Linked DNA regions of Homo sapiens. The protein of the gene in region 3 purifies or fractionates together with the protein of the main gene of each other region. This does not show direct contact. Each region holds a gene or a part of one and is shown on either strand. Other genes may lie near its edges.

The links. The genes of interacting proteins can lie anywhere in the genome.
Region 1: the proteins of TTYH1 (region 3) and ALG11 purify together in Homo sapiens (affinity purification with mass spectrometry; one large-scale study listed by BioGRID and IntAct). This does not show direct contact.
Region 2: the proteins of TTYH1 (region 3) and DNAJC18 purify together in Homo sapiens (affinity purification with mass spectrometry; one large-scale study listed by BioGRID and IntAct). This does not show direct contact.
Region 4: the proteins of TTYH1 (region 3) and GPR89A purify together in Homo sapiens (affinity purification with mass spectrometry, with the first as the bait; one large-scale study listed by BioGRID). This does not show direct contact.

What each region holds. Positions count from the first base shown.
Region 1 is NC_000013.11:52,015,366-52,018,897, forward strand, and holds part of ALG11 (GDP-Man:Man(3)GlcNAc(2)-PP-Dol alpha-1,2-mannosyltransferase), read left to right. Parts: intron 1-3,532. UniProt on the Homo sapiens protein: GDP-Man:Man(3)GlcNAc(2)-PP-Dol alpha-1,2-mannosyltransferase that operates in the biosynthetic pathway of dolichol-linked oligosaccharides, the glycan precursors employed in protein asparagine (N)-glycosylation.
Region 2 is NC_000005.10:139,415,526-139,419,057, reverse strand, and holds part of DNAJC18 (dnaJ homolog subfamily C member 18), read left to right. Parts: intron 1-465; exon of another isoform or gene 466-1,056; intron 1,057-1,341; exon of another isoform or gene 1,342-1,463; intron 1,464-3,532.
Region 3 is NC_000019.10:54,421,948-54,425,479, forward strand, and holds part of TTYH1 (protein tweety homolog 1), read left to right. Parts: intron 1-242; coding exon 243-463; intron 464-3,532. UniProt on the Homo sapiens protein: Calcium-independent, swelling-dependent volume-regulated anion channel (VRAC-swell) which plays a pivotal role in the process of regulatory volume decrease (RVD) in the brain through the efflux of anions like chloride and organic osmolytes like glutamate.
Region 4 is NC_000001.11:145,628,456-145,631,987, forward strand, and holds part of GPR89A (Golgi pH regulator A), read left to right. Parts: intron 1-2,231; coding exon 2,232-2,352; intron 2,353-3,208; coding exon 3,209-3,289; intron 3,290-3,532. UniProt on the Homo sapiens protein: Voltage-gated channel that enables the transfer of anions such as iodide, chloride, bromide and fluoride which may function in counter-ion conductance and participates in Golgi acidification.

The DNA.
Region 1 (3,532 bases), on a different chromosome or scaffold from region 3:
CCACTGCACTTCAGCCTGGGTGACAGAGTGAGACCCTGTATCTAAAAAAAGCAAAATTTACTTTTCTGATGAATTTGTATGTTTTCATGTGGGCAGTGAAAACTATGTGATATGGTTTGGCCGTGACCCCACCCAAACCTCAAGTTGAATTTTATCTCCCAGAATGCCCACATGTTGTGGGAGGGATCCAGGGGGAGGTAATTGAATCATGGGGGCCAATCTTTCCCATGCTATTCTCGTGATAGTGAGTAAGTTCACGAGATCTGATGGGGTTTATCAGGGGTTTCTGCTTTTGCTTCTTTCTGATTTTTCTCTTGCTGCCACCATGTAAGAAGTGCCTTATGCCTCCCGCCATGATTCTGAGGCCTCATAGCCATGTGGAACTGTAAATCCAATTAAACCTATTTTTGTTCCCAGTTTCGAGTATGTCTTTATCAGCAGCGTGAAAATGAACTTGGTACCATAAATTAGTACCAGTAGAGTGGGGTGCTGCTGAAGAGATACCCAAAAATGTGGAAGCGACTTTGGAACTGGGCAACAGGCAGAGGCTGGAACAGTTTGGAGGGCTCAGAAGAAGCCAGGAAAATGTGGGAAAGTTTGGAACATCCTAGAGACTTGTTGAATGGCTTTGAACAAAATGCGGATAGTGATATGGACAACGAAATCCAGGCTGAGGTGGTCTCAGATGGAGATGAAGAACTTGTTGGGAACTGGAGAAAGGTGACTCCTCTTATGTTTTAGCAAAGGTACTAGAGGCATTTTGCCCCTGCCCTAGAGATTTGTGGAACTTTGAACTTGAAAGAGATGATTTAGGGTATCTGGTGTAAGAAATTTCTAAGCAGCAAAGAATTCAAGAAGTGACTTGGGTGCTCTTAAAAGCATTCCATTTTAAAAGCGGAACAGAGCATAAAAGTTCAGAAAATTTGCAGCCTGACAATGCAGTAGAAAAGAAAGACCCATTTTTTTAGGAGAAATTCAAGCTGGCTGCAGAAATTTTCAAAAGTAGCAAGGAGCCTAATGTTAATCCTGAAGACCATGGGGGAAAATGTCTCCAGGCAATGTCGGAGACCTTCATGGCAGCCTCTCTCATGGCAGGCCTGGAGGCCCAGGAGGAAAAAGTGGTTTTGTGGGCCAGGTGCAGGGGCCCTGTGCTGTGTGCAGCCTAGGGACTTGGTACCCTGTGTCCCAGCTGCTCCAGCCGTGGCTGAAAGGGGCCAATGCAGAGCTAGTGCTGTGGCTTCAGAGGGTGAAAGCCCCAAGCCATGGTAGCTTCACATGGTGTTGAGCCTGCGGGTGCACAGAAGTCAAGAATGGAAATTTGGGAACCTCTACCTAGATTGCAGAAGATGTATAGAAACGCCTGGATGCCCAGGCAAAAGTTTGCCACCGGGGCAGGGCCCTCATGGAGAACCTCTGCCAGGGCAGTGCAGAAGGGAAATGTGGGGTTGGAGCCCCCACACAGAGTCCCTACTGGGGCACTGCCTAGTGGAGCTGCGAGAAGAGGGCCACCGTCCTCCATACCCCAGAGTGGTAGATCCACTGACAGCTTGCACCGTGTGCCTGGAAAAACCTCAGACACTCAACGCCGGCCCATGAAAGCAGCCAGGAGGGAGGCTGTACCCTGCAAATCTACAGGGGCAGAGCTGCTCAAGACCATGGGAACCCACCTCTTGCTTAAGCATGACCTGGATGTGAGACCTGGAGTCAAAGGAGGTCATTTTGGAGCTTTAAAAATTTGACTGCCCCACTGGATTTTGGACTTGCATGGGCCCTGTAACCCCCTTGTTTTGGCCAATTTCTCCCATTTGGAACAGCTGTACTTACCCAATACCTGTACTCCCATTGTATCTGGGAAGTAACTAGCTTACTTTTGATTTTACAGGCTCATAGGCAGAAGGGACTTGCCTTGTCTCGGATGAGACTTTGGACTGTGGACATATGGGTTAATGCTGAAATGAGTTAAGACTTTGGGGGACTGTTGGGAAGGCATAATTGGTTTTGAAATGTGATGACGTGAGATTTGGAGGGGCCAGGGCAGAATGATATGGTTTGGCCATGTCCCCACCCAAATCTCAGTTTGAATTGTGTCTCCCAGAATTCCCATGTGTTGTGGAAGGGACCCAGGGGAAGGTAATTGAATCATGGGGGCCGGTCTTTCCCATGCTATTCTCATAATAATGAATAAGTCTCATGAGATCTGATGGGTTTATCAGGGGTTTCCGCTTTTGCTGCTTCCTCGTTTTTCTCTTGCCCACTGCCCTGTAAGAAGTGCCTTACACCTCCTGCCGTGATTCTGAGGTCTCCCCAGCCATATGGAACTGTAAGTCCAATTAAATCTCTTTTTGTTCCCCGTTTTGGGTACGTCTTTATCAGCAGTGTGAAAACGAAGTAATACACTGTGTAACTACACAAAACATCCCCTATTTGCCTAGGCTACTGAGCAGCCCAGAGCCCAGTCTGCTATTCACTACTATGTATGTAAATACAGCCTGCATACCTGTGTCCATCATCAACCACCATCCCAACATACACACCATCTTTATTCTATTTTCACTGGTCCTGACTTTTTATTATTTAACTTTTGGCATTTTATTGTTTTTAAATCTTATAAGCCCTCCTCAAATCCTTTATAAAGGATAGGCAGAGTATGAAAAATATTAAGTTAGATTCCAACTGTATTGGCAACCCTAAAAGAAAAGCACCTTGGCATTTTATTTTAACACATTTTAAGCAACATCTGAAGACGTAATAAACTTTTGCATCCGTCATATATTCATTGGATGCCTTCTCTGTGCCAGGCATCGTACTTGGCATTGGGGACATGGTATGAGCAAGCCTGGGCCCTTGCTTTTGCAGAGCTTCAATCGACCTGACAGCAATGGAGAACCTTTTAACAGTCACTTTGTGAATGAGTTTACTAATGAGTATTAAGTAGAACATTAGTGGGTTTTTGGCAGCTCATTCAGAGGTACATAAGGGAAGGTAGTAGTATTAGATCATGTAAATAGAGCAAATACAGAACTGGAAATAGAAGTGGAGAAATCTAAGTTCCATTCCTTTATCCCAGAAATTGTTCTACTTGAGGTGAAGTGATGGAATGAAAAAGATTTACTATCTTACCAGACTTTAGTGGAATATTGATCGTTCAAAAGACATATTTTTTTTGGCATCTGACCCTCAAAATGACAGTATATAACACATTCTTAATCATGTCTTGTTTAGATTAATAGTTAAATTTGTTTTAATCCCATAACATATATACTAAGTCAGGAGAAAGGGGGTTCAATGTTGATTTTTACTGCTGATTAAAGTATGTTCAATTGGTAACATGCTACAGGAATTGGAACTAAAGGGGACTTATCCTTTCAATGTTGGATATTTAGCAGCATTAGAATTTTCATACTTGAGTATTTTGTTAGCAGACTCGTTAAAGACAATTCTCTCTTTGTTACTAATATATAAAGTAGATATGTAAAAGCAGACTTTAATTTGTAATTTTTTTAATGTATATATCACATTGATTCTCAACTTT
Region 2 (3,532 bases), on a different chromosome or scaffold from region 3:
TCTTCAGTCACAGTGCTGCTAAGCCCTCATTGACCATCACACACTCCCAACCCCGCCCTCAAGTTAAGCTCTCCTTCCTCTGTGTTCTTAAAGCACTTTGTTCAGCCTGCTAACATAGTACCAATCACACAGTGTTAGAGTTCCAGGGATATATGTCAGTCTCCCCTGCAAGACTATGGACTGTCTGGGAATAAGAACTTGGTCTTACTAATTTTGTGTCCCAGGGTTCTGGCACAGTCCTTGCTTCAGAACAAGTGCTCAACAAATGTCTTTTGAAGAGAGGATTCTCAGGAGTAGAAAACAATGAAAATGCTGAGGATTGTGAATAACAACAGCAGGGTTAGTGTCCTAGCTCACCCTTAGGGACCTGGTCTCTGCCCCCTATTTCTGTACGGCAAAGTCCTAATGTTCTCTCAAGGTGCATTAGGAAGTTGGTGAGCAATGACTCTGGGATATAAGAGGAAATTAAACAGGAAGAGGAAATTCCAATTTATTGAAAAACACTGAGGATTCAGGAAATACTCTACCCCATTGCTAAACTAGATTTTACAAGAATCAAAAATCAGGAAAGAATTTTAGAGCAGGATAAAGGCCTCATATTAAAAGGCAGTATATAGGCCAGGCATGGTAGCTCATGCCTATAGTCCTAGCACTTTGGGAGGCCGAGGCAGGAGGATCACTTGAGTCCAGGAGTTTGAGACCAGCCTGGGAACCCCATCTCTAGAAAAAGTATAAAAATAAGCCAGGTGTGGCAGCACATGCCTGTGGTTTCAGCTACTCAGGAGGTCGAGCCTGGGAGATCAAGGCTGCAGTGAGCTGTGATCACTCCACTGCACTCCAGCCTGGGCCACAGAGCGAGATCCTGTCTCAATAAAAAGGCAGTATATACATGGATCCAAATCAGGTGAAAGCCAGTGTATGTCCTGAAAATCCCCATTGTCTGGGTCCTGGGAGGGCTTTGACTTTGTTGCTTTCTGCAAGAACTGGATGAAAATCTGCATTTCACATTCTTCAAACACCCGCCTGCCCCACATCTTCCTCTGTGGCAGTAAGATGCTGGAATTATACAAAGAGCTCATGGTAAGGATTGCACCAGAGGTAGTTTCTCAGCTTTTGTCCCCATCCCCATGAGGCCTAGTTCAGAGCTTCGGCACTCTCCAGGTATAAATAAAAATCCAGTGAGTGGCCAGGTGTGGTGGCTCATGCCTGTAATCCCAGCACTTTGGGAGGCCAAGGAGGATGGATCACCTGAGGTCCGGAGTTCGAGACCAACCTGGCCAACATGGCGAAACCCCTTCTCTACTAAAAATACAAAAATTAGCTGGGTGTGGTGGTGCGCACCTGTAATTCCAGCTACTTGGGAGGCTGAGGCAGGAGAATCTCTTGAACCCGGGAGGCGGAGGTTGCAGTCTGCTGAGATCGTGCCACTGCACTTCAGCCTGGGTGACAGAGCGAGACTCCATCTAAAAAAAAAAAAAAAAAAAAAAAATCCAGTGAGTAAGCATGATGCGTGTACCCACAAGTTCCAAATGGCAGTTATCAGCACAAACCCCTTAAAAATCTATTTCTGGCATTTAAGTACAGCGGCTATGCAGAGCCTCCACACAACCCAAGTGCCATTTGAGAACAAGCAGCATCTGCCCTCCGAATCCAGCAGCAAGTGCAGCCAACAAGGTTAAATTTAGCACTTGGAGGTTGTAAAAATAAACCCACTTGAGAACAAAGTTCACTCTTGGCAAAATACCAAATGCAAACTGTTTTTAGCAAGGTTAGCCATTGACTTTTTAAATCTTTGTTTGGTTCATTTATTTTTCTCTGCTCTTCCTTAGAATGTTTAATCTGGGTGAAAATTTTTTTTTTTTTTTTTTTTGACAGAGTCTCGCTCTCTCGCTCAGGCTGGAGTGCAGTCATGCAATCTCGGCGCACTGCAACCTCCACCTCCCAGGTTCAAGCGATTCTCCTGCCTCAGCCTCCTGAGTAGTTGGGACTATAGGTGCATGCCACCGTGCCTGGCTAATTTTTGTAGTTTTTAGTAGAGACGGGGTTTCAAGGATGTTGGTCAGGCTGGTCTCGAACTCCTGACCTCAGGTAATCCGCCCACCTCGGCCTCCGAAGTGCTGGGATTACAGGCGTGAGCCACCACACCCGGCCAATCTGGGCAAACCTTTATGAGTAATCCCTTACTATAAACACTAATTGTCCTGTTTACTTCTTCGCAGCTGCATCTAGATAGTAAGCCTGATGCCAGGGCAAGTGGCCACACCACTAGGCTGGGCTGGACGAAGGTAGCAGGCAGGAACTGCCTCTTGGCCTAGCTGAGCTGAGCTGAGCTCCTGGCCCAGACTGGTAGAGGAGCACTTCTTTCCACACCCTTGAGCAGGATAACCTAGTGGGTAGAAGCTTAGGCTTTGAAATGGGGATAGAATCCACTTCCTCCTAGAGAGGTTGTGTGGGTTATGGAAGATGGTATGGGTGTAACTCTTAGCACAGTGTCTGGCACATAGAAAGTGCCTAATTTCTGGTGGAGTCCTGGCTTTACCTGGCTTTGCACTGTAGACTGGATGTAGCACCATCTCATGGGGCTGGATCATGAGGGCAGTTGGGATCTGTTGCGGTCTTTCAGCTGTTGAGACCAATCTGGGCTCTTTTGCAGAGAACCTTAGGAGAGGTTCTGGGTCTTGCTTCTCTTGGCAATTTGCCTGAGTCAGTTTATCTTTAAGGCTCAATGCTCTGTCCATCTGTTACAGTGGCATTCAGAGGAAGGGGAACTTTCTGCTAAGAAGAAAAGGTATTCTCTGGAACCTGCCACTCCCCAAAATTTTTTTTAATTACTTAGAATTTATTGAATATTAACAGAATTTGTCAAAAGTAGCATATTCTTCAAGTTGACCCTTTGTTCATTGAAGGATGAAAGGATTCACTGGCAGTTTGGAGAGAAGTTGCTTTAAGCTTGGTAGTGGGGATGTGGGACATGATTCCTTGAAACACTGACCTTGTACAAGGTCATTGCTCTGGAGCAGGGGTCTCTGAGCTGGTTTCAGTGAACTTTATGAAAAGCAATGTGATATTTTGAGAAAAGCAGTTATCTTTCATCAGCTTGTTGAAGTGGCCTTCAATGTAGAAAATATAAAGAGTCACTAGCCCTTAATGTTTCCTGGAACAAGATTTCAGGGAATGAAGCATTTAGAAAAGCTGAGCAAATGGAAAACCTGAGGAAATCATTTCAAAGAAAAGCAAAACCACAGAATCTGTTTCAATACTGGTGTAACTGTGACTCCAGAGGACTAAAGGCATAGACTGACTTCACAGAGGCCTCCTGGGCAAGGTTACCCACATGCCAAAGTAGCCTGAGATTGGAGTTAGTGCCGAGCCCTGGGCAGGATGCAGGAGCAGAGAGCTTTCATTTGGATATGGCCCATGATCCTCCATGACGCCCCATCACCTGCAAGGGTGACTGTGCCAAGGCAAGCCCTGGCTAGCAGGCGCTGCAGGCACCCTCACCAAGCAGGGAGAGCGCATTGTTCTGGAGCCT
Region 3 (3,532 bases):
TTACTACCCTGGGCTCAAGCTACCAACCATCCAGAGCTCTGGATAGAGGCCACAGAACTCCATGAACTTGATCTTGAAGCCCCTCCCCAATCCCTTCCCTTACTCAATCCTCAGATGTCCCAGACTCCAGATCTCAGACACCCGCTACTATGCACCCCTCCTTCACTTCTAAAACCCCATGCCTCGACCGCGGGCTCCCCCCAGGATGTCCTTCCAGACCTCAGCCCCTGTCCTATCCCCAGGTGTTGGAGACGGTGGAGAGGCTGGGCGAGGCGGTGAGGACAGAGCTGACCACCCTGGAGGAGGTGCTCGAGCCGCGCACGGAGCTGGTGGCTGCCGCCCGAGGGGCTCGACGGCAGGCGGAGGCTGCGGCCCAGCAGCTGCAGGGGCTGGCCTTCTGGCAGGGAGTGCCCCTGAGCCCCCTGCAGGTGGCTGAAAATGTGTCCTTTGTGGAGGAGTACAGGTGAGACGCTGCTCTTCTTGCTCTCTGTGCCGGCAGCTCTCAGGCGGAGTCCCCGGGGGGACAGTTGGCAATGCCTGGAGGCAGTTTTGGTTGTGACAGCTGGGGAGTGTGTGCGCACTGCTGGCATCCAATGGGTAGAGCCCAGGAACTGTTCAACACCCTGCAATGCACAAGAACCCCCTCCCCACCCATTGGCAGGGAATGATCCAGCCACCATGACAATTATGACGAGGCTGGCCAGGCGCGGTGGCTCAGGCCTGTAATCCCAGCACTTTTAGGAGGCCAAGGTGGGTGGATCACCTGAGGTCAGGAGTTTGAGACCAGCCTGGCCAACGTGGAGAAACCCCGTCTCTACCAAAAATACAAAAATTAGCTGGGCGTGGCGGCAGATGTCTGTAATGCCAGCTACTCAGGAGGCTGAGGCAGGAGAATCCCTTGAACCCGGGAAATGGAGGTTGCAGTGAGCCGAGATTTCACCATTGCACTCCAGCCTGGGCGATAGAGTGAGACTCCATCTCAAAAAAAAAAAAAAAAAAAAAAAGATGAGGTTGAGAAACCTACTGTGGAGGGACAGATCACCAGACCCCATGGCCATCCTGACACCCATGTCCTCACCCATTCACTCACTCACCCCCTCCACGTCACTCCACTCACTTATTCACACATGCGTTCATTCCTTGACTCACTCATTCAGCAAGTCACTCTTGGACTCAGTTACTCCTGGACTAACCCAGCAGGCCACTCACTCAGTCGTTCATCCGTGTGACATGTGTATTTGTTCAGCACTATTTTTTTTTTTTTTTTTGAGATGGAGTCTCACTCTGTCGCCCAGGCTAGAGTGCAGCGGTGCGATCTCGACTCACTGCAACCTCCGCCTCCTGGATTCAAGCGATTCTCCTGCCGCAGCCTCCCAAGTAGCTGGCATTACAGGCAGGCGCCACCACGCCCGGCTAATTTTTGTATTTTTAGTAGAAACGGGGTTTCACCATGTTAGCCAGGCTGGTCTCAAACTCCTGACCTTGTGATCTGCCCGCCTTGGCCTCTCAAAGTGTTGTTCAGCACTATTTATTTAGCACCCTCTGGTGAAAGAGGCAGCGTACCTACAGATCAGGAACCTGAGCTCGAAAGCCAGCCAGCCCCACCCTAACCACGCGGCTGCAATCAAGTTACTTTGCAGACCTCTGCCTTGGTTTCCCCATCTGTGAAATGGGAATCGGGGCAGCGTCCCCCTTGTTGAATTGGTTCGAGTTGTTGAGTTGGCATCTGAGTGCTGAGAAGGACGATTAGCACAGGGAGAGCACCGCAGAGATATGAAGTGTAGTCACCCCGGTGGCGGGCCGGGCAGTGAGCAAGTGGCAGAAATCCCTGCCACGTGGCTGCGTCCTCCGGGGGGAACCAGCAAGGGACAAACGCAGAGAAAAACATTGTAAGGTGTTGGGCCATGAGAACTTTGGAGAAAATTACAGAGGGGACCAGGCACGGTGGTTCACGCCTGTAATCCCAGCACTTTGGGAAGCCGAGGCAGGCGGATCACGAGGTCAAGAGATCGAGACCATCCTGGCTAACACGGTGAAATCCCGTCGCTACTAAAAATACAAAAATTAGCCGGGCGTGGTGGTGGGCGCCTGTAGTCCCAGCTACTTGGGAGGCTGAGACAGGAGAATCGCTTGAACCCAGGAAGTGGAGCTTGCAGTGAGCAGAGATCGTGCCACTGCACTCCAGCCTGGGTGACGGAGCGAGAATCCGTCTTAAAAAAAAAAAAAGAAAATTATAGAGGGAGATGAGGTGGGACAGAGTCTGGCAGTTCATCAGGGGGACTGAGAAGGTGGCATTTGGAGGAGAGGAGGCAGTGAGCTGTGCAGTGTCCAGGCAGCCACCCTTCCCAGCGGCCACCATGACGGTGTCCTCATTGCTTTGACCATTAGTAATCATTCATTCATTCATTCATTTATCCGACGTCAGCTGGAGGCCCTGCCCGCGGGGCATGCGCTGAGATTTGGGAGGCCTTCCGGGATGCTGCGCTCCAGCGGGGAAGGCCGACTGGGGCTGAAAAAGCTGGAGGTCAGGACACACCCGCAGGGCAGCAGGTGCAAGAGACAGACAGGCCTGGGTTTGAAGAAGTCCAGGTTCTGCATTGTGGTCAGGCCCAGGGGCTGCACAAGCCGGGCCTCAGCTCCTTCTCCTGGGCGAGGGCAGGGAAGTGGTGGGAGCCATAAGGGTGATGCCAGGGTGAGGCAGACCCACCATCACTAGAAAATATCTTCCGGGTGCACCACTGCGAAAGCACCCCACACTTGGGAGTCCCTCGACAGACAAATCAGGGGCCTCCAAGGGAGTCTTGCTGGAGGGGAGCACTTGCGAGGCTGGGCGGAAGCAGCCAGAGACCAGGGTAAGGAGTGAAGCCCAAGCTTGTGGGGCCTGCAGAGAATGGCAGGAGGATTAACTGAGCACTTACTACGTGCCGGGCACTGTGCTGTTGTTACGGCGGGTCCTTGCTCCCGGAGCTCCCAAGATCGTGGTGGCCACTTCCAAGAGGGCAGCAAGCCTCGTGTTCTCTGACCTGGGGTTCTTGGCCTCACGGATTCCAAGGAATGGAATCCTGGGCCCTGCGGTGAGTGTTTTAGCTCTATTAGAAGCCGTGGGTCACGGAAGAGAACCGTGGAACCCAGCGACCAGTGTTCAGCTCGATCAGGATGAACCCAGGCAGTTAGCTGTGCAGGAACAATGGCGAGCCTCTAGCCCGATTGGGAGCGGCAATGGGTGTCTCCCTGGATCACGAGCACAGTGGACACCCTGCCGGATCCGGAGGGTGGAAGTCAGCGGCGGGTCTGCGACGGCGGCAAACAGCAGTGGTGGACGGCGAGCGAAAGCTCAGCTCAAGCCGTAACAGACACGGACCAGAAGAGTGTGCAGTTTCAAGTTTTAATAGAGTGAAAACAGAGTTCCCATACAACGGGAGGGGACCCAAAGTGGGTAGCCGTTGCTGGCTGGAATGCCTGGGTTTCTATCCAGATCATTGTCCCTTCCCCTGTGCTCTCAGGTGATAGATGATTGGCTATTTCTTTACTT
Region 4 (3,532 bases), on a different chromosome or scaffold from region 3:
TTATTACCATAGTGTCGTAGTGGTTAAAGCCCAGACTCTGGAGCTAGACTGCACTTGAATCCTGACTCTGCCCCTTTTATCTGTGTGGCCTTAACTAAGTTACTTAACCTCTCTGTGCCTCCATTTCTTCATCTGTAAAATTAGGTTTTCAATAATATCTACCTCATAGGATTGTTATGAGGGTTAAATGAATTAGAACATGTGAAATGCTTAGAACAGTGCCTAGTCATAGCAGGTGCTTGGTGAATATTACCTATTGCCATTACAATTACTAGTGAAAGTAATTTCATTCAATAAAGAAGAATGGGAAGAAAGCTGGATTGCAGTCAGTTAAGGAATGAACTGGAGGTGAAGAAAAGGTGACAATAACTATAAACTTCTTTTAAGAAGCCTGGCTATTAAGGAGGAAATAGATGGGGGTTGGTAACTAGACGTAAACTCGAAGCCAAGAACAGAATTTCTCTTAGAAAAGAGAATTGAAACTAAAGAGAAAGAACTAGCAAAGAAGGAAATATTGAATATACAAGAGAGAGGAGACAGATGATGGAACAAGACTCTGAAAGAGGTGGAAGGGATTGAATACAATCAAAAGTATGGTGACTGCTAGTTCCAAGATGGTGGCGTAGGGGCAAGCTGGCTTTGCTTACCCCCCTGGCAGAAAACCAAAAACAAATAGCACCAAGATTATCACTAGCAATATCCCAGAACTCACATATAAGGATGAGACAGTTCCCAGGGCCCAGAGAAGATCAGAAGCACAAGTGGAGAAGTCAGCTTTGGATGCTACTTTGTTCTAAGGGAGACAAGTTGGGAGGATGATTGCAGATGTATATTCAATGTTATAAAACAGCCCATAAAACAAAGATTGGAAAATGTTGAATTTTGCAACCAGGAGAAAATTCATGACCATAGTGTAGAGTGAAGGTAGTTTATGGCTAATAGCTATGTCTTTTATAATAAGGACATTGGCAAAGGAGAAGGACAAAGGTAGGAAAAATAAAGAGTAACTGCCGAAGACAATGGAGAGAGATGGCTGACCAAGGGCAAGATAAGGATTAGTCAATAGTGTGAGAGCTCTCTTAGGACTGGAGACCATACATTTGTAATGGCTCCAAAATCAGTACGCATTCTAGCAATTTGAGGCAGCAAAACATGGGCACAGGGAAGGCAGAGTGTTAGACTGATCCAGAGTTGGGAATTTGTAGGATTAGCGCTTCAGAAGGAAGATAGTAGGAGATTGAGGCTCCTGGTGAGAGAATTTGAAGCCAGCAAGCCTGGAGTCCAAGCTAGGTGAAGAATGGAGAAGCAGAAGACCAGAGGTTGCACTGACCTCTAAAACGAGTGTAGTGGAAATAGAAAGACTAGGAATGGAGGCCAGTAGTCAGAAAAGGAATATTGGAATTTTCAGTTTTGAAGCTGACAGAATTCCTGAATTATAGCTCTGGCATTTGACCATAGGAGTGGATGGCTGTAGTGAATTCTATCCTAGAAATAGAAAGTGAAAACCAGTTAAAACCATTCTTTTTCTGCAATGCCAAACTTACTGAGTTATTCTTCAGCATTGCTTTCTCTCATTTATCCCAAATACATCAACCAGCAGTATTTATTTTAACTGCTAAGTTGATTTTCAGCATTCTCACGTGATATGAAACAATTGATAATTAGGATACAATTTATAATCCGAAACTGATGTGTTTGCCTTTGAATTACTCATTCATCTATAAGTTTAGTCCTTTTATTAGATGAATTCTGTGTTTATTGGATGCAAAAAAGAATAAGACAAAAGCAAAAGAGTATCACCTTAGGGGAAATACATATATATCAAAGATAATTAGCACAAAGTAGTTCCTGCTATTTATACTTTTCCAGCAGATTTACTTTCTTAGTTTTTTTTTTTTTGGCCGATGCTTTTACTAAAAGTACTTTGCTTTGTTAGCATTCATGCTACCAAGAGTAAACAGTCAATGATTGTTATTTATAATTATTGTTGTTATTATTTTACTGCTATCACCCAATAAAAGAGATCACTCTGAAGCATATGGGACAGGAGGAAAATCAGTAAACTTTTAGTATATTTATTATAAATCATCTACACATTAATAATTAAAAGTTGGCTTGTATGAGTTAGTTATGTGTAATGGTTAATGTTTTAAATAATGTTTCCTTTTGCAGTACAGATGAGAGCCATTTTGTCTATATTACCTGGCATTAATGTGCCTTGATGTTTTTAGGGATCTTATCCATAGAACAGCTCATCAGCCGGGTTGGTGTGATTGGAGTGACTCTCATGGCTCTTCTTTCTGGATTTGGTGCTGTCAACTGCCCATACACTTACATGTCTTACTTCCTCAGGTAACAGAGCGCTTTGCATCCTTTCTTTTTTGCCCCATTACTTCTTGAATACATATGTCATATTATGCCACCATCTTTAAGATTATATATTAGATCTATGACACTGTCTTTTTATTCTTCTCTTCCTCTGTCCCTGTGGGCATTGACCTGGAAATCTTTCTAAATAAGTATTATCACTTGTACGGCTTGCCTTTATTATTTGTCCTACATTCATTTATTTTTTAAATGGCAAATTTCAATCTGACACTCCCCTCCCACTTTTTTAAAGGCACATTTCTAGTGACCAGCAGTATAAACCAACTCCAACTTCAGCAGTTCAGCTCCCCTCCTAGATATTAACAGAACAGTAGAAGACAATGCCAAGTTAAAAGTGTGCTTAAACATACATCCTAAATGTCACTGAGCTGAGATCATGCCACTGCACTCCAGCCTCGGCGACAGAGCTAGACTCTTTCATAAATAAATGACGGGTTGATGGGTGCAGCAAACCATCATGGCACGTGTATACCTATGTAACAAACCTGCATGTTCTACACATGTATCCGAGAACTTAAAGTATAATAAAAAATAAAATAAAAATATTTAAATATATATTTTATATATATATATAAATGTAACTGGATCAAAGCTAAGAAAAACTGTAAGAGAGCTGGGTGAATTCCATTTCCCTGAGATCCCAGAGGATTAGCTATAAGAAATGAGAGCAAAGGCATTTTAGTTTATTATGGTCATTTTACTATTTTCTAGAAAAAAGTAGTAGGTAACAGTTGAAGTCTATGTTTGTCTCCAGATACCCTGTATCATGCCCAAGAGTGGGACCCCAAAACATTTTGCTAGCAGTTTGTGCTTTTTGTAGGAATGTGACTGACACGGATATTCTAGCCCTGGAACGGCGACTGCTGCAAACCATGGATATGATCATAAGCAAAAAGAAAAGGTAAGATATCAACACTGTAATACATTTGGACTCTTACAATTTCTCAACAAGAAAATTTGACTGTGAATTGGTGCTGGCAGGGAATTTTATCTTATTCATTTTTACTATAAGGTAAAGTACCAGATTTAGTGTTGGCTGGACACAGTGGCTCACACCTGTGATCCCAGCACTTTGGGAGGCCACGACGGGGGGATCATTTGAGCCCAGAAGTTCGAGACTAGCCTGGGTAACATAGTGAGACCC